2 separate regions of the Homo sapiens genome follow, and region 2 is reported to be linked to region 1. The links are microRNA targets in miRTarBase. Many come from high-throughput screens and were not tested one by one. Region 1 holds a microRNA gene; the other region holds the end of a gene's coding sequence.
Evidence for each region. Region 1 holds the annotated microRNA hsa-miR-3682-3p (UGAUGAUACAGGUGGAGGUAG, at 6,729-6,749, shown strand). A microRNA usually pairs through its seed, bases 2 to 8, with sites in the 3' UTR of a target mRNA and lowers its output. Matches are read on the target gene's strand: a 7mer-m8 pairs with bases 2 to 8, a 7mer-A1 pairs with bases 2 to 7 and ends in A, and an 8mer does both.

Region 2: miRTarBase lists MAML3 as a target of hsa-miR-3682-3p. Seed matches in the 3' UTR shown: 7mer-A1 at 6,706-6,712.

The regions. Positions count from the first base shown.
Region 1 is chr2:53,843,545-53,855,884 of GRCh38, reverse strand. MIR3682 (microRNA 3682) reads left to right here and starts at 6,680; the gene lies at 6,680-6,763. All of the region lies in intron 1 of GPR75-ASB3 (GPR75-ASB3 readthrough), which reads left to right. GPR75 (G protein-coupled receptor 75) reads left to right here. Exons shown (of 2, transcript NM_006794.4): 2 at 1,020-2,973. The coding sequence starts at 1,129. The coding sequence ends at 2,751.
Region 2 is chr4:139,710,283-139,722,622 of GRCh38, forward strand. MAML3 (mastermind like transcriptional coactivator 3) reads right to left here. Exons shown (of 5, transcript NM_018717.5): 5 at 6,471-10,041. The coding sequence ends at 9,041. It also overlaps a transcript of MGST2 not described here. Among named protein-coding and RNA genes, the nearest start is that of MGST2, 51 kb to the left of the region's middle. RefSeq lists an enhancer at 838-2,037.

The sequences.
Region 1 (12,340 bases):
TTTTTCCAAAGGAGAATATGTAGTTAATTGGCCAAGAAATTGCAAGCTGGGGGAAAAATTATAAATACTGGGAAATAAAGGATTCTTCATAGGGAACGAAACAGGGTTTGTTAATGATTTATGGGAATTATGTGAAGGGCCACATTATGCATCAACAATACCCTCCAGCCTATATTTCAAGCACATGCAGTTTTTTGCCGCAGTGCTTCTGCTGCAAAGACCTACCCCCACTTCTCTTAGCCTGTCTGTCCCCACTCCATACCCCCGACCTTTCATCCAGCTGGCCTGTGCTTGCTAAAGCTCCCTTTATCCTTTCCCAGCTCCCTTTCCATGTTGGAGTAGGTTCCCCCCTTCCATGCTCTCATAGCACCCTGCAACCTTATTAGGCTGTAATTATTACATAGTTAGATTGATCTCCAACTAGATTGTCATCTCTTTGGTGGAGAGATTACGTTCTTGTGTATCTTCAGTGCCTGACACAGAAGTGTTTCTAAAAGTAACATCTGCACACCCCTCAAACAGAATCACAAGGGGCGAGGCCAAGAAATCTGCTCTCCAAGTGATAACTTAAACTTTTTAACATGCTCTTCAGGTGACACTTAAACTTGTTTGAAAACCTCTGTGTCATAAAACTAAATATTAGCTGGATGAATGTATTTGTATCTTTTTCTGTGTTGGCCTTTGTGAGGAGAAATGCTGTCTATGCACCAAATCAGAGCTGAAAAATTCTAGTGTTTTGTTAAAAAAAAAAAAGAGAGAGAGAGAGCTGGGTTTGGTGGTGCATGCCTGTAGTCCCAGCTACTTGGGAAGCTAAGCCAGGAGGACTGCTTGAGCACAGGAGTTCAAGTCCAGCCTGGGCAACATGGTAAGACCCCATTGCTAATAAATGAATAAATTTTTCTCTCAAGGTGAGAGATACTAGTACTAATACTACTACTAATAATGAGATCACTGTATGAATTCCTTTCTGTTTCTACATTAATCCCTTTCTGTTTCTGGGTGTGCATTTTTGTGTGTAGGCTTATCTGTCTTGGGCCTCTTTTGTCACATATTGCTCATCTGTGAGCTGAGGCCCTGACTCACTGAGTATTTTTGGGGAGCAGAAGAAGGAGACATTTCTCTCCGAAAATGAACTCAACAGGCCACCTTCAGGATGCCCCCAATGCCACCTCGCTCCATGTGCCTCACTCACAGGAAGGAAACAGCACCTCTCTCCAGGAGGGTCTTCAGGATCTCATCCACACAGCCACCTTGGTGACCTGTACTTTTCTACTGGCGGTCATCTTCTGCCTGGGTTCCTATGGCAACTTCATTGTCTTCTTGTCCTTCTTCGATCCAGCCTTCAGGAAATTCAGAACCAACTTTGATTTCATGATCCTGAACCTGTCCTTCTGTGACCTCTTCATTTGTGGAGTGACAGCCCCCATGTTCACCTTTGTGTTATTCTTCAGCTCAGCCAGTAGTATCCCGGATGCTTTCTGCTTCACTTTCCATCTCACCAGTTCAGGCTTCATCATCATGTCTCTGAAGACAGTGGCAGTGATCGCCCTGCACCGGCTCCGGATGGTGTTGGGGAAACAGCCTAATCGCACGGCCTCCTTTCCCTGCACCGTACTCCTCACCCTGCTTCTCTGGGCCACCAGTTTCACCCTTGCCACCTTGGCTACCTTGAAAACCAGCAAGTCCCACCTCTGTCTTCCCATGTCCAGTCTGATTGCTGGAAAAGGGAAAGCCATTTTGTCTCTCTATGTGGTCGACTTCACCTTCTGTGTTGCTGTGGTCTCTGTCTCTTACATCATGATTGCTCAGACCCTGCGGAAGAACGCTCAAGTCAGAAAGTGCCCCCCTGTAATCACAGTCGATGCTTCCAGACCACAGCCTTTCATGGGGGTCCCTGTGCAGGGAGGTGGAGATCCCATCCAGTGTGCCATGCCGGCTCTGTATAGGAACCAGAATTACAACAAACTGCAGCACGTTCAGACCCGTGGATATACCAAGAGTCCCAACCAACTGGTCACCCCTGCAGCAAGCCGACTCCAGCTCGTATCAGCCATCAACCTCTCCACTGCCAAGGATTCCAAAGCCGTGGTCACCTGTGTGATCATTGTGCTGTCAGTCCTGGTGTGCTGTCTTCCACTGGGGATTTCCTTGGTACAGGTGGTTCTCTCCAGCAATGGGAGCTTCATTCTTTACCAGTTTGAATTGTTTGGATTTACTCTTATATTTTTCAAGTCAGGATTAAACCCTTTTATATATTCTCGGAACAGTGCAGGGCTGAGAAGGAAAGTGCTCTGGTGCCTCCAATACATAGGCCTGGGTTTTTTCTGCTGCAAACAAAAGACTCGACTTCGAGCCATGGGAAAAGGGAACCTCGAAGTCAACAGAAACAAATCCTCCCATCATGAAACAAACTCTGCCTACATGTTATCTCCAAAGCCACAGAAGAAATTTGTGGACCAGGCTTGTGGCCCAAGTCATTCAAAAGAAAGTATGGTGAGTCCCAAGATCTCTGCTGGACATCAACACTGTGGTCAGAGCAGCTCGACCCCCATCAACACTCGGATTGAACCTTACTACAGCATCTATAACAGCAGCCCTTCCCAGGAGGAGAGCAGCCCATGTAACTTACAGCCAGTAAACTCTTTTGGATTTGCCAATTCATATATTGCCATGCATTATCACACCACTAATGACTTAGTGCAGGAATATGACAGCACTTCAGCCAAGCAGATTCCAGTCCCCTCCGTTTAAAGTCATGGAGGCTATAGGATCTTATGTAAACAGTTTTTGTTTCTGATAGTAATGGACTTTATTCTAACTTGAGATCAGTGGCGGATCAAAACCTACAAGATTCAACTGAAAAGTTGGCAGTTATGGTTTTCTTTCATCTGATGTGTCAGTATCTGTTGATTTGCTTTGTAGTTTGTTGACATCTTAAGATTTGATGTGAAAGTTTTAGATTTTTTACCCTGCTCTTTGCCTCAGTCTTTTGTACCGAGCCTTTAAATAGATGCCAGGAATGAAGCTACTGTGTTAAAGTAGAAAGTCAACCGATTATCATGATTTGAGTCAGTGTTATGTGACTTCAAAATAAGGTATTGACTGGATTTTTTTTAAAGAATGTGAAAATATGATTTTTGCTGAGGTGTTATTTTTATTAATTGAATTGTAAATTTTGATTTTTTGAAGTGTTGAAATCGGGAACACTACACCTTGTTGGTAGCAGGTTGATTTGAATAAATAATATATTGTTAGCTGGGTGCAGTGGCATGCACCTGTAGTCCTAGCTACTTGGGAGGCTGAGGCAGGAGGATCACTTGAGCCCGGGATTATGAGTCCAGCCTGGGCAACACAGCAAGACCCTGTCTCTAAAGGAAATGTATATATTCTTTTTTTTTTTTTTTTTTTTTTTTTTTTTTTGAGACGGAGTTTCACTCTTGTTGCCCAGGCTGGAGTGCAATGGCATGACCTCGGCTCACCGCAACCTCCACCTCCCGGGTTCAAGTGATTCTCCTGTCTCAGCCTCCCAAGTAGCTGGGATTACAGGCGCATGCCACCATGCCCGGCTAATTTTTGTATTTTTATTAGAGACAGGGTTTCTCTGTGTTGGTCAGGCTGGTCTTCAACTCCTGACCTTAGGTGATCCGCCTGCCTCGGCCTCCCAAAGTGCTGGGATTACAGGCATGAGCCACTGTGCTTAGCCAGAAATATATATATTCTTAAGGCAGAAAAGGTGATAACTCTGTCTTTACCAAAAACACTCACACAGGTATTAGGTACTTTTCTTTCATAGGACAGTCAACTAAGAATATAGTATTATGATTATTGCCATTTCTTATTATAGACATGTTTTATGTCAGTTGAGTAGGTTTACAATTCTTTTGAAAAGAAATATATTTGGGCCGGGCATGGTGGCTCACACCTGTAATCCCAGCACTTTGGGAGGCTGAGGCGGGTGGATCACCTGAGGGTCAGGAGTTCGAGACCAGCCTGGCCAACATGATGAAACCCCGTCTCTACTAAAAACACAAAAATTAGCAAGGCATGGTGGCAAGCACCTGTAATCCCAGCTACTCGGGAGGTTGAGGCAAGAGAATCGCTTGAACCTGGGAGACAGGTTGCAGTGAGCTGAGATCGTGCCATTGCACTCCAGCCTGGGTGACAAGAGCGAGATGTCATCTCAAAAAAATGAAAAAAAGAGAAAGAAAGAAAGAAAAGAAATATATTTTTGCTTGTTAAAAGTGAATTATTTATTTATTTATTTTTTTCCTGAGAGGGAGTCTTGCTCTGTTGCCCAGGCTGGAGTGCAGTGGCATGATCTCTGCTCACTGCAACCTGCGCCTCCCGGGCTCAAGTGATTCTCCTGCCTCAGCCTCCTGAGTAGCTGGGATTACAGGCGTGTGCCACCATGCCCAGCTCATTTTTGTATTTTTTAGTAGAGACAGGTCTTGAACTTGTCTTGAACTCCTGACCTCAGGTGATCTGCCTGCCTCGGCCTCCCGAAGTGCTGGGATTACAGGCATGAGCCACCCCAACTGGCCCAAAAGTGAATTGTTTCTGAATGATCTTATTCAAGAAGCCTAGTGAAGAGGACTGCATCTATGGTAGAGGTGCACTGTTCCCAGGAGAGAAGGCACTGCGGTAATCATCTCGGTGTTCTGTGGAAAACAGTGTGGACTCCTGTCATGCATTGGGCAATATTTATTATTGCTTAACAAGGTTTACAGATAAGACTGGGAATGTTTTGATTTATGTTTTCCTTCTGTGTGAGAAGAGTTTACTAACCACCTGACAGTATTCAAGTAACTATTTAGAAATGACTTCTTTTTTGTCTTTATTTATTATTATGGTAGAAAAATTCTCAAGATAATCTATTTTCAAACTAATCATTTTATTTCTCTCCCATTAATCTTAAAGTGGAAATGGGCAGAAAGAAAAAATAGATTTAAGTATTTCTATACCTGAAACTAATTTTACTATATGCTCTGAGATTCCTAGCATAACAACTGTGAACTCATATTTTATTGTAAAAATATTTTCAGTATACAGTTAGTATTTGAACTCACTAGGTTTTTAAATGTTAGACACACAAGATGAGCATCAATATACAACACCTATCTTTATAAATTGTTATATTCAAGAGTTATTATTGCAGATTGGAAGGTACTTTGTTCCTTTGCGTAAAAGTCTTTTTTTTTTTTTGTAGAAACAGAGTCTTACTCTGTCACCCAGGCTAAAGTGCAGTGGCATGATCTCAGATCGCTGCAACCTCCGCTTCCCGGGTTCAAGCGATTGTCTTGCCTCAGCCTCCAGAGTAGCTGGGATTACAGGTGCCCGCCACCACTCCTGGCTAATTTTTGTATTTTTGGTAGAGACAGGGTTTCACCATGATAGCCAGGCTGGTCTTGAATTCCTGGCCTCAAGTAATCCACCCACCTCGGCCTCCCAAAGTGCTAGGATTACAGGCATGAGAAACCACATCCAGCTGAAAGGCATTTAATTTATAGTTTCCTCCCTCAGCTCTCCCCAAATACAGGGGTCATGAGAGGTATAGAGAAGACAGAATAGATATTCAATTAGAACTCTGCTCAACCTTATCTTATAACTGTTACCTTTCAGTATTGATCAGTTATTTCTATTTTTGAGATTTAAATAGGCATAGATTTTCTTTTGTTTTCTTTTTCTTCTAAATTTTTTTCTTGCCACACCCAGGGGCAGCCTCGAATTATTTTGTTTTTAAGTTCACCTTTTAGACTGATTTGCCTACCTACTCCCTCCTTCTTTCCCTTTCTCCCTCCCTCCTTCCCTTTTTCCCTTTTCTTTTTTTTAAGATGGAGTCTCATGCTTGTTGCCCAGGATGGAGTGCGGTGGCACAATCTCGGCTCACTGCAACCTCCGCCTCCCAGGTTCAAGCGATTCTCCTGTGTCAGCCTCCCGAGTAGCTGGGACTACAGGCACGCACCACCACTCCCAGCTAATTTTTGTATTTTTAATAGAGACAAGGTTTCACCAAGTTAGCCAGGCTGGTCTCAAACTTCTGACCTTGTGATCCACCCACCTCGGCCTACCTAAGTACTGGGATTACAGGCGTGAGCCAGTGCACTGGCCTATTATCTCTTTTTAACAAAGAATTAAGAAATCTAATATTCTTTCCCAAGATCGTACAAAGAATTGTGGCAAATTAGGAATTAGATTTTTGTCTTAATTCAAAACCTGGTATTTACCCCAGTGTGCCAAACAGCTTTATAATGAAGACAACATTAATCAAGCATCACATTTTTAAAGGCATATATCTATTTTTTTGGCTATGCAAAAAACCTTGTCTCTATTAAAAATACAAAAATTGGCTAGGCATTTCAAATGTGATACAATAAAATATTAACACAAAAGTAATTTCTATTTATAAAATTTAAAATGGCAGGTTTTCTGTGTGACGTTTGAGTTTGAGATGATTTGACTGGCATGAGGCCCATCATTGGGAGGTAAAAATTACAGCACAAAGAAAACTAAGCAGGTGCATATGAGGTATTGTCTCTTTATGCTCATCAAAAAATAATCTCCAAAAGAAAAGTTAAAAAAATTATTGTTATAAATTGCATGAAATACATAGTGGGCTCGATTCATAGCCCCCGTCCGTATCTATATCTCTATATCTATAGAGACATAACTTCTTTCTTCGTAAGTTATATATGTCTACTTCTACCTGTGTTATCATAATAAAGGTGTCATGATGATACAGGTGGAGGTAGAAATATATAACTTATCTCTTCATAAGGGCTAAAATGAGAACTAAAAGTAATGAGAATTCAGTTGAATATGATTAATTATCAGGATATGTTAATTAGTTCTCTTGATGCTTACTGTGATGCAAAGTATGTGACGTATTTTAAACATTTTATAATAATTGTTCGTATGTTAACCATTAGGCAAGATTTGTATTTCTAATGCTTTTAATGTTCTTTTAAAATAATGTTTGGAAAATAAAAATACTGAAAATCCTAACATTTCTGAACACCAGTTTGCAATATAATGAATTTCCTGTCTGATCATTTTAAAACTATCAGAGCATGGCAATGATCATTTTTGCCCAATGGATAACAATGTGTTGAACCACAGACAGAGAGCTCTTTGCCTTAAGAGATGAAATAACTTGTTTGACTATATATAAATTTTTTTTTTTTTTTGTAGAGACGGGGTCTCCCTATGTTGCCCAGGTTGGTCTCCAACTCATGGGCTCAAGCGATCCTCCCGCCTCAGCCTTCCAAAGTGCTGGGAATAGAGGCGTTACATTTTGTATCATATATGCTCAGACTAATCAAGGATAGTTAATGCCAAAGACTATTTACAAAACTAAGTTTCTTACTCAGTGAAAAGAGGCTAAATGAACATTTGAGCAACTCATTTAAATGAAATTTAGCTGGAAAAAGAAAAATTTTGAATTTTTGGTTTATCGATCAGGGTCTGGATTTAAGAATCAAAAAACATTAACATAAGCAGGAAAGCATTTAATATAGGAAACTAGATGTCTACAGAATGGTTAGATAGGGCTCTATGATGAGTCTCCAGGAAAGATTGCACCATAAACATGACCAGCCGGACCAGCCATAAATGCTACTACTTCTGCTCCAACCAAGAAGAGAGGAAGTCAGGAAGCCTACCTTGGACTTTTGACTTCAAGAACACACTGTTAAAGTTGTTGTCCACCAGTGAGGAAGTTGCTGCCACTACTATTTCCACAAAAAACTCTCTTGACACCTACAAAGCAAGTGGCTGAACAACAAGACACTGCTATAGAAAAAATCTGGCACCATGCAGTTAGATGGAGAAACTAAGTTTGCATCTAGAACCCTAGCTTCAGGGAAATCTGGAAAGTGTACTAACACAAAAGTATACTCAAAGGAGATGCAGAGTTCTAATCTGTTCTGTCCACAGAGGTTCACCTTGGTAGTCAACATTTGTTTTTTTTTTTGAGATGGGTTCTCACTCTGTTGCCCAAGCTGGAGTGTAGTGGTGCAATCTCGGCTCACTGCAACCTCCACCTCCTGGGTTCAAGCGATTTTCCTGCCTCAGCCTCCTGAGTAGCTGGGATTACAGGCATGCGCCAACACGCCCAGCTAATTTTTGTAGCAGAGACGGGGTTTCACCATGTTGGCCAGGCTGGTCTTGAACTCCTGACCTCAGGTGATCCACCCACCTCACCCTCCCAAAGTGCTGTGATTATAGGCGTGAGCCACTGCATCCGGCCAGTAGTCAACATTTTTTATACATACCTCTAGCCATACTCCCAAACAACAGCAGTAGCTATACCACCATTCTCCCTCTTGAAATAATGCAGCTTCTCTCATTTAAACAAAAATATGTACTTTGCTAGGCGCTGCATAGCAATCTCAGCACTTTGGGAGGCTGAAGTGGGAGGATCGCTTGAGCCCAGGAGTTTGAGACCCACCTGGGCAACGTGACAAAACCCCGTTTCTACAGAAAAGTTACTTGGGCATGGTGGCAGGTACCTGTAGTCCCAGCTACTGGGGAGGCTGAGGTGGGAAGATCGCCTGAGTGAGTCCAGGAGGCCTAGGCTGCAGTGAGCCAAGATCACACCAGTGCAATCCAGCCTGCAGTGAGATCCTGTCACAAAACAAAACAAAATAAAAAATGCATACTCTCCTCCAGAGGGAAGATGCTAAGTCTGATCAATCTCTGGGTTTCTCAGTGATGTTCATTATTCTTCTAGTTCAGTCAAAAATCTCAACGTGATATTCTGTAACCTAAGGACCAAATTATAAAATTTACCACCAACAAACAAATTTAATCATCAAGAGTAAAAAGAAGAAATTGGTTGAAAATGTTTCATAGACACACACACACACACACCAGGATAAAGAATAAATGGGGATTAGTACAGACTTTGCTTGCTTCCGTTGGTCAAGAAGCTGTGATTGGTATTTTATAATGTCCTCCACTTCCCATTTCCTATCCCTTTGCCATTAGCTAGCATGTCATGTAGTCTGAGAAAGTAAGTTTTATCAAATAGCAGAGGGAATGAAATACTAAGAAAACAAAATTTATAAAACATAATGTAGGATTACAGAAATAACTGGATAAATGGAAATGCTTAATATCATATATAAAAGAATTTATATATATGCTTAATATCATATATAATATCATATATAAAAGACAATTCGAATTAAAAAACAACATGAAGGCCAGGCGCGGTGGCTTGCGCCTGTAATCCCAGCACTTTGGGAGGCCGAGGTGAGCGGATCATTTGAGGTCAGGAGTTCAAGGCAAGTCTGGCCAACATGGTGAAACCCCATCTCTACCACAAATAAAAAAATTATCTGGGCATGGTGGCAGGTGCCTGTAATCCCAGCTACTCAGGAAGCTGAAGCAGAAGAATTGCTTGAACCAGGGAGGCGGAGGTTGCAGTGAGCTGAGATCACGCCACTGCCCTCCAGCCTGGGTGACAGAGCGAGACTCCGTCTCAAAAAAAATAAAAAATAAATAAAAACAACATGAAAATATATGCAACATTTGCTGCTTGGAATAGAGAAACACAAACTGAGAGTAAAAATTAAGATACAGGCAAAAGTAGACAAGCCTTCATGAACAAAAAATGATGGTGACAGTATTAATATCAAAGTAGAACTGAAAGCAAAACCACATTCTAGAAGATAACTAATATTGATAAGAGGAACAACCAAATAATAAAGCAATACGTTTCATTCATTCAGCAGATATTTGTTGAATACTGTGTACCAGCTTGAGATACATTGGTGAACACAACAATGAAGTTTCTACCCCCATAACACATTATACTGAAGATAATAAATACGTAATTTTCAAGCACAGGATCCCACAGTAATCCATGGGGAATATGTTCCAAGACCCCCAGTGGATATCTGAAACCCGGGATAGTGCCAAACCCGATATATTCCATGCTTTTTCCTTTACACACATACCTGTGATAAAGCCTAATTTATAAGGCACGGTAAGAGATTAACAATAATGAATATTGTAATAAAAGTTATGTGAATGTGGTCTCTCTCAAAATATGCCACAGGAAGCTGAAACCAAGGATAAGGGGGGACTATGGCAGTGATACATTGAATGAAGATGATAAAATAGTAAAAGCAGAGAAAGTATGGGGGGTGGTGGGGATGTGATTTTGACACAGGGAGACTAGAGATAGTCTTTCTTAGGAGATATTTGAGCAGCATCTTGAATGAAGTCTTAGGGATTGAGCCAGGAAAATAGTTGGGACAAGAGCTTTCCAGGCTCCAGGAGTAGCCACTAAAGGCCCAAAATAGGCATGTGTTTGGCATGTTTAAGAAAATTGGAGGTGGGGCGCAGTGGCTCATACCTGTAATCCCAGGACTTTGGGAGGCCAAGGCGGGCAGATCACTTGAGGTCAGGAGTTTAAGACCAGCCTGGCCAACATGGCGAAACCCCATCTCTACTGAAAATACACAAATTAGCCAGGCATTGTGGCGTACGCTTGTAGTCCCAGCTCCTTGGGAGGCTGAGGCAGGAGAGTCGCTTGAACCCAGGAGGTGAAGATGGCAGTGAGCCAAGATCATGCCACTGCACTCCAGCCTGGGCGACAGGGTGAGACTGTCTCAACAAAAATAAATAAATAAATTGGCAGAAAGAATGGCAGGAAATGAGGTAGCCAGGAACCAGATCATATAGGCTTTTTGTAGGACTTGACAAGTGTTTTAGATTTTTATTCCACATATAATGGAAAATCATTGCAAGATTGAGAGCAGAGGCTTAATAAAACCAGATTTGTCAAAAACAACAAAGTGCACAAAGCAAAATCTGTTAGAATACAAGAAGAAATGGACAGAAACATGAACAAAGTAGGAGATTTTAATACTTCACTAAGTCTAGGATGGACCAAGAAGACAAGAATGGTAAGAACATAGAACAGTTTACAAATATATAATTAGAAAATAGAATTAATATTGAGGTGTACACACATAATTTTATATACCTCACAGCAAATAAGCTTTCTTTTACATGTTAGCAGAAATAAACAACTGATTAATAGACCAAAAGAAAACGCTCAATGAAATAGAAATGCTGAGTCCCAGTGTCATAAACTAACAGTGCTACACACAATTTAAGTTCTATTTAGCTCCATTCAACTTTTGTTATTTTTGCCATTTTTAATTCTCATCTGTTTTTATTTTGAACCTGACGACATTACAGTTATAATGTGGTCAATTTTTTTTTTTTTGAGACAGAGTCTCTCACTCTGGAGTGCAGTGGCATGATCTCTGCTCACTGCAACGTCCACCTCCACCTCCCCGAATTAAGCAATCCTCCCACCTCAGGCTCCTGAGTAGCTGGAACTAGCAGCACAGGCCACCATGTCCAGCAAATTTTTGTTGTTTTTGTTTTTGTTTTTGTAGAGGCAAGGTTTCACCATGTTGCCCAGGGCTCAATTCCTGGGCTCAAGTGGTCCTCCCACCTCAGCCTCCCAAAGTGCTGAGATTATATGTGTGAGCCATCACACTTGGCCTATTCATTGATATTTACCATATATTATCACATTACTTAAAATTTTTTTTTTTTTAGACAGGTCACTCTGTCGCCCAGGTTGGAGTGCTGTGGCACGATGATGGCTCACTGCAGCCTCATCCTCCTGGGCTGAAGCGATTTTCCTGCCTCAGCCTCCCAAGTAGCTGGGACTATAGGCATGCCCCACCATGCCTTGGCTAATTTTTTTTTTTTTTTTTTTTTTTTTTTTTTTTTTGTAGAGATGGGGTCTCCCTGTGTTGCCCAGGTTTGTCTCAAACTCCTGGTCTCAAGCAATCCCATCTTGGCCTCACAAATGCAGAGATTACAGCCATGAGCCATCATGCTCGGCCCTTAAAATTTTTAAATAAATTTTTAATTAATTGTTTTGATTCAGCAGATAAGTTTTACATACTCCTTAGTGGATTCTGACTTCTGACTTCCACGACCCCCATCTAGCTTATTTATCTCCCTCTCTTCCTTCCTTCCTTCCTTCCTTCCTTCCTTCCTCTCTTTCTCTCTTTCTTCTTTTCAAAGAGATAAGGTCTTGCTCTGTCACCAGACTGGGGTGCTGTGGCACAATCTTGGCTCACTGCAGCCTCCACCTCCTGGGCTCAAGTGATCCTCCCTCCTGAGTAGCAGGGACTACAGGAGTATACCACCATGCTTGGCTAATCTTTGTAGAGACATAGTTTCTCTATGTTGCCCAGGCTGATCTCGAACTCCTAGGCTCAAGCAGTCCTCCCACCTCAGCCTCCCAAAATGCTGGCATTATAGGCATTAGCCAAAGTGCCTGACTTATCATATTTCTTCCTCACTA
Region 2 (12,340 bases), not on the chromosome of region 1:
GGCAGATGTCTAGTGACTTTCTAGAAAAATGTTTATTCTCTCCTCTTTCTTCCCCCATCACCATACTTACTGCACTAGGATTTTATAAAGGTCAGTAAGATTACATGTAAGAACTCATTTGAAAAGAGAAAGGTATTCCATTCATCCAGTGCCAAACGAGTATAAGTAAGAATATGTGGCTTGAATTGATTGGAACTAGGAGTAATCAACACTTCTCAGAGCTTCACGTTTTTACTTCTAGTGTCAGCGTCCCCCTGTGCCCTCCCTCCACCCCGGAATCAGTTCATTTTCTCTCCCATGTTTTCTGGGAGAGTGCTAAGCCAATATCAAAAGAACAAAGCCCAATGCCATGCTGTTTCCTACATGGTGTTATTTGCCAACCTGTCTGGAACCATAGCCCACTAAGGGTAGCGATGGCCTCTTCTTCATAATTAAATTCTTTCTTTTGGTTTGTGTATATTAAAACTTACCTTTGTTTTGTGCCTAAATTTGATGATGACTTTATTCTGTGGCCTACTTTTCCTCTTAACCCAGTTTTGAAACATGTTGTGATACTAAGCTTTTTAAAGTTTGATGAGGAGTCTTAGGTCATTTCCTAGAAGTGGAGAGGTGGATTCACATCTATGTGATTTATTAACAAAGGGCTCTCAATAGGGGAAAAAGAAAGAGAGTGGGGGTAACAGGACAGAGAAGGGGAACAAGCCAAAATAGGGGGCTCCTTTATTTTTCCCTTTTTTTTTTTTTGTTTTGAGACAGGGTCTCTCTCTGTCACCCTGGTTGGAGTGCAGTGGCGTGATCACAATCCACTGCAGCCTTGACTTCCTGGGCTCAGGTGATTCTCCCACCTCAGCCTCCTGAGTAGCTGGGACTACAGGAATGCATCACCATGACCGGCTGTTTTCTATTTTTTGTAGAGATGGGGTTTCGCCATGTTGCCCAGGCTGGTCTCAAACTGTTACAGGACAGAGAAATATGTTACAGGAAAAGGTCCCAATCCAGACCCCAAGAGAAGGTTCTTGGATCTCGTGCAAGAAAGAATTCTTGCACGAGTGAGTGCTCAGTGCAAAGTGAAAGCAAGTTTATTAAGAAAGTAAAGGAATAAAAGAATGGCTACTCCATAGAGCAGCCCCGAGGGCTGCTGGTTGCCTATTTTTATGGTTATCTCTTGATGATATACTAAACAAGGGGTGGATTATTCATGTCTCTCCTTTTTAGAACATATAGGGTAACTCCCTGGTATTGCCATGGCATTTGTAAACTCTCATGGCACTGGTGGGAGTGTAGCAGAGAGGAAGACCAGAGGTCACTCTCGTCGCCATTTTGGTTTTGCTGGATTTTGGCCAGCTCCTTTACTGCAACCTGGTTTATCGGCAAGGTCTTTATGACATGTATTTTGTGCTGACCTATCTCATCCTGTGACTTAGAATGCCTTAACTGTCTGGGAATGTAGCCCAGTAGGTTTCAGCCTCATTTCACCCAGTTCCTATTTAAGATGGAGTTGCCGCCTCTGACATTTCCCCCCTTTCTTTTATAAGAGAACCTTTAATCCTAAGGGTTGCAGAGGGACAAAGATCCATCTTCTGTAACTTCTTCAGGCTGAATAGGGGCGATGATATTCCTGCCTAACTATGAGGGTCTCTTGCATTCAGGGTATAGAGGAGCTCAGTCAGAAAGCATCAGTATGGTGAGGGCCATTCATGACTCTTGAGTTTTGACAAGAGGTGATATCTGGAAGATTAATAAGTGTTTAGTTTAAGAAAACATTCAGTAAGCTTGTTCTGTATTCCTACACAAAGAGTATAGCAGTAATGTATTCCACAAGAGTAAAGCAAAATAAGTAAAGTTATTCCAAGCAAGCTAAATTAGAAGGCTTTCCATCAACTGTGCAACTGTTGAAACCAAGCTGATATGGGGTTGGCAGCTGATTGCAATGTGCCCAGAATTAGAATACTGATCCAGACTTTTACATTACCCATCCCTCTTGTTTCCTCTGAGCAGCAGTTAGAGATCACTGGTTAGTTCACAGGAATAAACAGGGTTAGCTTAAATTGCAGAAACAAACTTAAAAACAACTAGTGAGACTAGAATTTAATAACAAGTGTACCATAGTTCTTGAAACATAATAGTTCTCGCTCCAGTTTCCCATTTTTACTAAAGACGAATTATGGTAAGACTGATTTGCTTTATTATACTTGGCCTGATTATTTGTATAAAGTACAGCAAGGATAATTATTTTTCACACAGGCATTTTAATTGGCTTTGATGGAACTCTGTTTCATAAGGAATCTCAGATAAGACTTTTTAAAAAGCCGAGCCCTGCCATGGGTTTGTACCCTGAAATACCTATGAGTTAGGTAAATTCCTGTCCTTTTGAGGTCCCAAGATAACTTGGGGCTCCTGGACCTGTGAGAAAGTGAAATTCTTTACTTACCATAGGTCAGAAACCCTATACAGGGACTGTGTAGGCAAGGTATGAGGCCAGTTCCCCAAAGGGTTTTTATTGGCTCTACAAGTCAAGTTTGATTCCTTAAAGGAAAGCACACCATTCCAGTCAAAGCCTTGGTAAAATGACCCATTTCTCCAATTGTGTCCTGTTACAAAAGAAAACAGATTCGTATTGCATTTATGCAAATAAGTATATTGCCATAAGTTAAGAATACTCACAACTAATTTCCAAATTCTGAAGTCAGGTTAGAGAGAAACAAATATGTTCCAAATTTTGTTCACAGCAGTATGCTTTACTCAATTGCTACAAGCTATAAATAGCTCAAAAGAAAAGTTTCCTTGACTCTGAAAAACAAAGCAAAGCATGCTTCTCTGTTCCAAGTGTGCGGAGTCAAAGTATCCCTCCATAACTACTATTAGCCATCCCTTAAAGTATATTTCCTACCTAGTTATTTCACAGCAAAGCTGTCTCAAAATGCAAAGTAATTTCTGATACCCCCCAAACTCAAAACCATCAGATAACACAATACAAAACAGAACAGAGCATTTGATTTTGAGAGGGATCCATCTGCTTTTAATTCCTGGGGTTTCAAGATAAAAACAGGTTTTTTCCCAAAACGGAGTCTGTGACACCTCCTTTGTTTTTCCCAATGAGTCTGTGACACCTCCTTTGTTTTTCCCAAGGAGTCCCAGGCTACCAGAAGTTATCTTAGGGCCTCTCGTGTGTTCATTAAGAGTGGCAAGACAGAAAAAAAAAAAAAAAAAAAAAAGGAGAAAAATAATTCAGTTGACTGAGAAGAAAAAACCTTTTTCCAGAAAAACAAGTTCCAAAAAGAGAAAATCATTAATGGCCTTTTAAATATATCTATTGCTTGTTTATCTACTTTTAATTAAGCTGACTTCTAACCATAGTGTTCTTTAAAAAAGAAATACTTTTGGATCTCTTATTACCTGACTTTAACAATGCCAAGCGGCCAATATTTCTAGCTTCTGAACTCTACCAGAGATAACCTCCTAGGTGCTTAGTGAAAGGAAAATTTAAGACAGTCCATGGAGAAGAAGAGAATAGACAAGGTCATGCAGATATGAAACCAGAAATGGTAGGCGGGGAAATCGAACCCTGGCTACCAATATGAAAGTGCACGATCTTAGCTACTGAGCTATAGCAAAGCGTGGTCTCCAGTTCCTTTCCCAGGAAGAGTCTAGAGTAGTTAATTTTGAGCTTGCAAAGGCTTTTAACTATTTAATATGATTTTTAGAGCTATGACATGAATCCTAAAATTCCTATTTCCTGGAAGGTGGAGACCACGGGAAGGTACCACCACATGGTTAAAAGGTCAAGCTCCCAAGGACATAAAACAAGGTGGAGATTTCATCCAGTTTTTTGTTTGTTTCAGGGACCTGCAGCCAAGTTTATTACTGACCAGCTTGTGAGGTCATCCTGAAAAGCGGGCTTACAGGTATTCTAAGCCCATGTTTTATCCTAAAGTACCCCTTTACACAGAAAAACGAATTCATGGCACAAAATACACCAGCTTAAGACTAGCCTTAGAATTCTTTTTGGCATTAATCAAAACTTTACAGAGGACATAAACACTGATTTTTTCCCCCCATTCATTTAACTATTTGCACACAGAGACAGAAGCCAGAAATCTGACTGGGAAGAAATTCCTACCCTTTTGCCAGCATGCTAAGCTTCTGGGTTCTCTTTCCCTGAGGGGCCCTAGTGATCTGGCTTGTGGCACAACTGCCTTTGGGGGCCAAGCCGCATCATAAAGGAAAAGTATTTCTTTTTGTTCTGGCCAAAGCAAAATACGCGTAATAAAACATAGATATTAACCAGGCTGCTTAGCATCCAATATCAAACTGGCAAGGCTTAAATTTGCCCTCAGGTGGGCCCTGTCATCTTTAATCTAACCTCCGACTAGGAGTTTCAACATGTGGTCTCTGGGCAAGATGGTCGCCCTGAGTAATAGAAAAGAAAGAGAAAGGAGAGAGAGAAAAACATTGCCTGTGGCAGGGCGGGGAAGGTGAAATGATCAGGGAGGCCAGAGAAAGAACCACCCATTGCAGCGACACTAAAAAGTTCAGGTGGCTGCTGTCGGTGGAGCAAGGATCTTTTCCAGTAATCCTACCAGCTCTCAAATTTCCCTTGTTAGGGAGGAAAAAGCTCCCCATGTCCCAGGATCCTGTACATTCCTAATTCTGTCACCCATAGCCATCAGCAAAGTACAAGGGAGATTAATCCAAAGAGAATAGCAGTTAACATCCCATAGTGCCGAACCTGTTCTTAGCCGAGAGGGACTTTACCGAAGAGGGGCCTCTAACCCGCTAAATCTTAGAAGGGACTCTAACTCTCCTAAGTCGGGCCTCTAACCAGAGGTCGGTCAAGCATCCTTGCCTTTTATTAAGGGGGAGCCTTTAACCACCTCTATCTTAGGAGAGACTCTAACTCCACTAAGCTGGGCCTCTAACCCAATCCCATTCTTTACCCAGGTACCCCACCACTTACCCAAAGTCTTCCAATCAGTGCTGCAGTCTATTTCCTTTGTGTTAGGGGGTGTCTCCCCAGTATCGTCCCATCGTTCTCCAGAAATATGTTAGAGGACTCCAATACTTACCCAAAGGTAGCTGTTGGGTCTAGGTTTCTACACTATTGTCCCTTCGGTGGTTGCCAGAAATATGTTGCAGGACAGAGAAATGTGTTACAGGAAAGGGGTCCTGATGCAGACCCCAAGAGAGGGTTCTTGGCTCTTGCGCAAGAAAGAATTCAGGGTGAGTCTGCAGTGCACAGTGAAAGCAAGTTTATTAAGAAAGTAAAGGAATAAAAGAATGGCTACTCCATAGAGCAGCCCCGAGGGCTGCTGGTTGTCCATTTTTATGGTTATCTCTTGATGATATGCTAAACAAGGGGTGCATTATTCATGCCTCCCCTTTTTAGACCATATAGGGTAACTTCCTGACCTTGCCATGGCATTTGTAAACTGTCATGGCACTGGTGGGAGTGTGGCAGTGAGGACGACCAGAGGTCACCCTCGTCGCTATTTTGGTTTTGGTGGGCTTTGGCTGGCTCCTTTACTGCAAACTGTTTTATCAGCAAGGTCTTTATGCCGTGTATTTTGTGCTGAACTCCTATCTCATCCTGTGACTTAGAATGCCTTAACCGTCTGGGAATGCAGCCCAGTAGGTTTCAGTCTCATTTTACCCAGCTCCTATTTAACATGGAGTTGCTCTGGTTCACACGCCTCTGACAAAACTCCTGGGCTCAAGTGATCCGCTTGCCTTGCCCTCCCAAAGTGCTGGGTGGGATTGCAGGTGTAAGCTACAGTGCCCGGTCTGGGGGGCACCTTTAAACCAAGTCCCAGCCTTTGCCTGATCTTGCAGTAGAGCTCTGGAGCAAAATTATATCTGAGTTTGTTCAGACAAGTCAACTGGGCTTTTATACTCCTGCACCAGTGAGTCACTGGCTAAAGTCAATCCAGAGGGGTATAAACTTCTAAGCACTTTCAATTCTGTGGGTGCAGGTGAAGCCAGGCCATGGTTTGAGATGCAAAGAAGTGGCCTGGTAGGAGTGGGGTGGTGGAGGCTGTTTACTGACAGTGCTCACTACAGTGGAACAAGAACCTTTATTACTTCCCCTCAATATATTCCGATTTTTCTTTTTTTGACAAAAATATTTATTTTTCCAGTGGAGCCTCCCTACCTCCAGATGAACTAGTTGGAAATGGAATTGTTATGGTACTGAATCTACAAATGGATTGCACTATGTTCCATGCAAAGTTGACTTTCCTCCCTTCCCTTTGCCACATCCTTCAGAGTGCGGCAGTAAATTCAGAAAGTATCATCAGTTGTGCAGTTGAATGCAAAGGCTGGGAATGATTGATCTCTCCCATTAAATAAATGTTTAAAGAATGATATCAAAATTTTGAGAAAAGAACTGCAGTTAATTAAAACCCAGGAATAATATGTCTGCTTAATTAAGATTGGAGCTCCAGTGAGGATCTTAAAATAAACTATACTTTGGATTGATTCAGATAATCTTTTATTTTTGTTTTTGTTTTCTTTAAAAGTGGTATGTCAACATCACTTCATTTCTACATTTCAGCGTTCTGTACATTTCTTAAAAGGAAATAAGCAATGCTCAATGTACAAAGTAAAAACAGAAAACTAGAAAAATCTGAATAAAATGGAGCAAGTTGCCAGAGGTCATACAGTACAAATTAGTAATTAGATGTCATCTGAAGTGCAATACCACTGCTGTGATGATGAGTTAAGGAATGAAATAAAAATACTCTATTTTAAACAAACAGTATATATATATTTATATGTATATTTTTTACAGATAGTAGACCCAGTGATATCTGCAGTATTGTAAAAACTTATGTACAAATAACTTTTTTTAGACATTACATATACATCAGCACCGTAGTAAAAACAAAACCAAAACAAAACCACCATATTAAAATCTACCTATTAGTTGGTCCCAGTACTGAGCATTTGGAGGAAGCTTTTAAAAGATAATGGAGCCCCCCACCCCTGTCTGTCTCACTTCCATTAGCCACCTCCAGTTTCTCATCATTGCTTATATATTTATTTCCTGTACCTTTCAGGAAAAGGTAATTATGTTTTGTGTCTTCTCATTTGTTTGTTTGCTTTTTTTTGGTTTCATCTCTTTGATCCACTCAGTTTCCCCAGTGGCATCACTCCCCATTTGGGGAGTTCAGGGTCACCCTGCTGCCACCTCTTCGGAGAGGGCGCCCAGCCCCTGCCTGGGCTTCTCACCCACCAGGCACCTCTGGCCTTACATCCTGCCCCTTCCTGAGCAGCTCTACAACCCCGGGTACGCGGAGAGCAAGTCAAAGGCAATGTTTGCCTGCCGCCTCCTCTCCAAAAACACCTCTGCCCCCAGCTTTCCATGGCAACTCGCCTTCTCAGGACTGAGTGTGGCCAGTCCAACCCCACAGGCTCCGACTCTTCCGTAGTGATCTGCCTGGGAGTGCACAGAAGGCAGCCAGCGTCTAGGACACGGAGGGAGGAGGGGACAGGAAAAAAGCACACGCCACTCTCACTTAGGACGACACCGAAGCCACAAGTCCTCCAAAAGGGGGATTGGGAGGGGAGGCAAGGAGCCTTGTTGATTCCTTCTGACAGATTTCGCTTAGGGCAGATGTGCGTCAATTGCAGAGAACAACTGTACAGGACTTTGGAAGAGGACTACTTTGCCCATATGAAATAAACTACATCTCCTTTCTATCCAAATTTGTAAGGTGGAGCAATTGCTTTTTTAGCTCCTCCACCTCTCTGGGATTTTATATTTGTCTTTCTGATGAGTAGGGATGATGGGAAAGGTGGATTTTTAGAGCATCACTCCCAGGATTTCGCCCAAAGGGAGCCTGAACCAGTGACCTCCAGGCCACTCCTTCCTGGGGATATCAGAAATATCAGATGTGGCTCACAAAAAACCGACTCCCAAACATCAGAGCAGCCCTCTTGGTTCCAGGCAGATATTCATTCAACGCTACACGTTAGAGAAAGAAGACTCCAGTGTCGCCTTTGCATTTCAGGCATTGTCTAAGTTCTTCCTGCATTTATGTGGACTCTGCCCAAGGCTCCCTAAAGACATAAGCTTCACTTCTTGGATAGTCTGTAAGGAGAAGCAAGGGGAGGCTGGTGTGGAGGCAAGGAGGAATAAAGGCAGGGCTGGAGACAAAGGCTCCAGGCTGGCAGACACACAGGGTCCAGTAGGGGTTTCCCTGCCCTGCGGCCGCCAGAAGTAGATGTGACCCACCTGGATGTATGGGTTTTGTATTGGGCGCCAGCAGGCTCCAGCCCCACCTGGAGGGACTGCCACCAGGGGCACCAGCAGAGGGAAGCCGTCCCAGGACTGCCGGATGGACCCTGCTCCAAACTCAGCCTGCTCTCCTTGTGACAGCAGAGCCTTTGCAATTCCTGAGGGTCATCATGGGGCAGGAGACAGACAGTCCTGTAGGATCTGTGGTTGTCTCCTTTTGACAATCTCACTGTTCTTCGTGCCTGCCCTCCAAATTCAGTAGCATGTCTCAAAGCCTTACATCTCTCGGCACCCAGAGTTCAGTGCATTTCCAACCTGTGCACCTGGCCTGTGCAACCACCCAGCCTCTTCTGGGGGACTCACTCTCCCTGGCTGAGGCTCTGTCTCTTTTGTGTCTCCAAAGCTGCTGTCTCCCGACCTGGGGCAGGAGGGGCTGAGGATACCTCTCTTGGGTAATAGTCCCTCTCGGCTGAAGCAGCTCCTGCTGGGCCAGGCGATCACAGGGCATGCTGGGCAGAGGGGCTCTGGCCGGCTTCATCTTCCCACCTGCTCCTCCGGGTGTCTCCCTCTCTCGCAGCCGGGATCTGCATGGCGTCTCATCTCGATTGCTGTGTGAAAATCAGGTGAAATGAGGCCTGGTGGGGCTGTGGATTGGCACCTGGATCTTCCATTGTCAGCCAGCTGCAGTTTTGCTCAGTTTACGTGGGTCAAAAAAACAAAAAACAAGGATGGGTCAACATCCTGTTTCTTTTTCACTTTTTAAGCTTTAACCACTCGAGTTGTGGATCTTGGGGCCTCTCTTGATTAGGGGTTACCAAACAATTCATCAAGCTCCTGCATCCACTCGTCCCCTGGCCCGCCTTTGATGATGGAGTCCACAAGGTCTGCACCGTCCGGGAGGCCAGGGAAGGAACCCCCAGCTCCGTCGCCACTGTAATTGTATGACACGTCCTGAGGGGCATTCCGCTCATAGGCTTGGCTCTGGCTGCTTGGAGCAAAGCTGCCACTGGGTATCTGCTGCTGTGCTGGGGGCTGGCTGAACGCTGGCATGCCTGGGACTCCCTGGCTCAGGCCAGACATGACCATTGGCCTCGCCTGGCTGGTGCCTTGCTGCCCCGGGAGCGATGGCATCATCTGCCGACCCATGGCAGCTGGGTTGAGGGTCCTCACTGTGCCCGTGTTAGCATCCACGACTGACTGGCTCAGTCCCTGTGGGAAGTGCTGCTTGGTCAGTCTCGGCTGCCCAGCTTGAAGAGGGTAGCTGGCGCCATTGTTGAATGGTCCCAATTCTCCACTAGTCCTCCCAGGCATGCCCTGCAAGCTCCTCTGTTGCCAGCTTTGTGCTCCTTGCTGGACTGTTCCCATAAGGCTCTGCAGCCTTGGAGGGGCTTGGGGCCTAGGCAAGGCCTGGCCTACTGGCCCTTTCATCTGTGGATGTTGCTGGGTAATGGCTGAGTTCACCAGCATGCTCTGACCAAAGCCACTCACCATTCCAACCCCCTGCCCAGAGGCAGGTTGCCTCGGTCCCTGGGCTTGGTTATGTGTGATGCTCATGCCACTTTGGTTTGGATGCTGCAACATTTGGGTCATGCCTGTGCTCATATTGTACATTCCTGGTTGGCTGGTAGGCGTGGTGCTATAAGGGGCCAGTCCCATCTCCGACTGCGCAGCTGCGGTGGCCATCGTCCCAGGGTTCTGGGAGGGTCCTATTCCCATCATGCCTGCGTTCTGTGCCATCAGCCGTGACGTTCGCATGCTCTGGAGGGCTGCTTGGCTTCTTACGGCTGCTATATCCTGGGGAGAACCTGCAGTGAAAAAGAGGACACATACCACTCACTCTTCTCCATAAGCAATATACTGCAACAAGATGTTGGAATTTTCTTTGGGAATGACAAAATTCCTTTATATGAAAGGATCTACTCTGATAATAAATCTGTAACAAAAATGATTATTTTTCTGATTATAGCATATGCTGATTGTGAAAATTTTGAAAGTGTTAAAAAATACAGAGACAAAAATTAAAGTCACCTGAAATCCCACTATCCAGAGATGATCATTCCTATTCTTTTATTTGTATATAAATAGACACCCACAAAAATTGGGATCGTACTGTGCATGTGTTTTTGTAGCTGACTTTTCCACTAAACAGATCCTGATGTAATTCTTGTTTATACTTCAGAAGCAAATTATTTCGTACTCTTATAGGTATGACATCATCCTCAACCAATAAGATACTATTTTCTTTGGAGGTGAGAGAGAATCCACCTCTGGGGCTAAATTAGAAAGAAATGGCTGATCACTTTGTATTTTCTATTTGTGAAGTGGAACATGGTTCAGTAGAGAATACTATCAATAAAGACCATTAGACTAATTTCCCTTAAGACTTGAGTAGGATTTGAGAGGTTAAAGGCCACTGCTTCTGCTAAGCAGCTATTTTGACAGATAGGACATTTTTCGGATCCACTCTGTAGATTTCAACATGCTCCAGATTCTCTGAATCATAACTTGTCATTGCAAACTGGCCAGCTTCCTGAGCTAGAAAAAGAAATCATCCTGCTACGTGCGACTTGGCCATAAACTTTACGCATTTCTACAGCAAAGTCCATTCCTTCAAATCGGCAACGACTATTTCTCTCAGCAAATTGCTAACACAATTTTAATAATGCTGTTTAAAAGGTGGCCAGAGTGTCCATACCAAGTCATTCAACCTTAATTAGGCATTTGAGTGAGTCCTTCTTTACATGTTACCAGGAAATTTCCAAACAGCCAAGGGAATGGAAATGTCGCCAGTAGAACACCAGTCAACGTTGCAAAGGTCTAGGAGGTACACAAAAACGGATTTTTCTATGTCCCTGCTAATGATTGAGTCTATGAGAAGAAGAAAAATAGTTTTTTTCCTGGACATTTAAAGAAGGTGCAGCATGGGAGCCAGTCAATATTCTAAGCAAATTTGATCCCACCTGGAACTGTGATGAGAAACCAGATGAGAATAGTCTAACCTTGTTAAACCTGGCACCCTGGTAGATAACTGAAGCATGTTTTTGTCTTCCTGATGTGGCTATTGATTTCTGGGCTGCAAATATGTCTCCATAGTTTCTTCCTTTCTTTAAGAAAGAAAATTACTGGAATTTTGATTATGTCTCAAGTTTTTGTGGCTTGAGATCAATATCATACTGCATTGAAAAATGAAACGATTTCTATCAGGAAACCTGAAAGATCTGGGGGAAATCCCTAGAAATGTTTTCATATATTTTTTTAAGCTTCATTATATCTAAGTGATTTTTTGAAAAATCGAAAGTTCCTAGTAAAACACTGGAAGGTAGTATATACTGCAACTTGTAATATTGTCATGCAGTTTTGTGACCTTAACGACTAAATTTTTATCGGCTGCATGGCCAATAAGATCAACTGTGGTGAAATGGGTTATTGAGTTGTTTATAAAAAAAGTTTAAGGGAAAAATATTGCTGAGTCAGAGATTGATTGGATAGACCCAAATTATATAAACAGTCTGATGGGCTGCTAGAAATAGATGAAAGGACATCTATAATTTGGCCATTTTGGGGTATATTTATAATGGATATGGTAAAGGACTAGATACTGTCTGGAATAATTTTGTGAATGAGAAATAGGTTCCTTTCTTTAGAGGGCAGAAGCGTTACAATGCTTTTTAATAGGCAGTGATACATTAATCCAAGCCAACCTTTATTTTTTATTTAGTGTAAATGACTGCACTATCTTGATGTAATTCTTATTTTTAAAAGGCATTTTAAAATCAGCAATTGCCACATTCTTTTTCACCTAAGGGAAATAAAAGGACTTTTATTAATCTAGTTTTATGCCTTCCGTGATTTTAAATATACAAAGGAAAAAAATTCAGATGTGTCCAAGGAATTAACTTGTCTTTACATGATTACTACATGTGTTAAACAACAGATTATGTTTTCTTTTTCTTTTTTTGGTCTAAAGCAGATATTATTGTGAGACACTGTAATCTAATTTTCTTGTCTGCTGGTTAACATCACAATGTCCAAGAAAATCTTGTATATTCAAATACAGATGATAGTATCCAACTTTTTCCTAAAAAAGTCTATGTTCTATTTTCA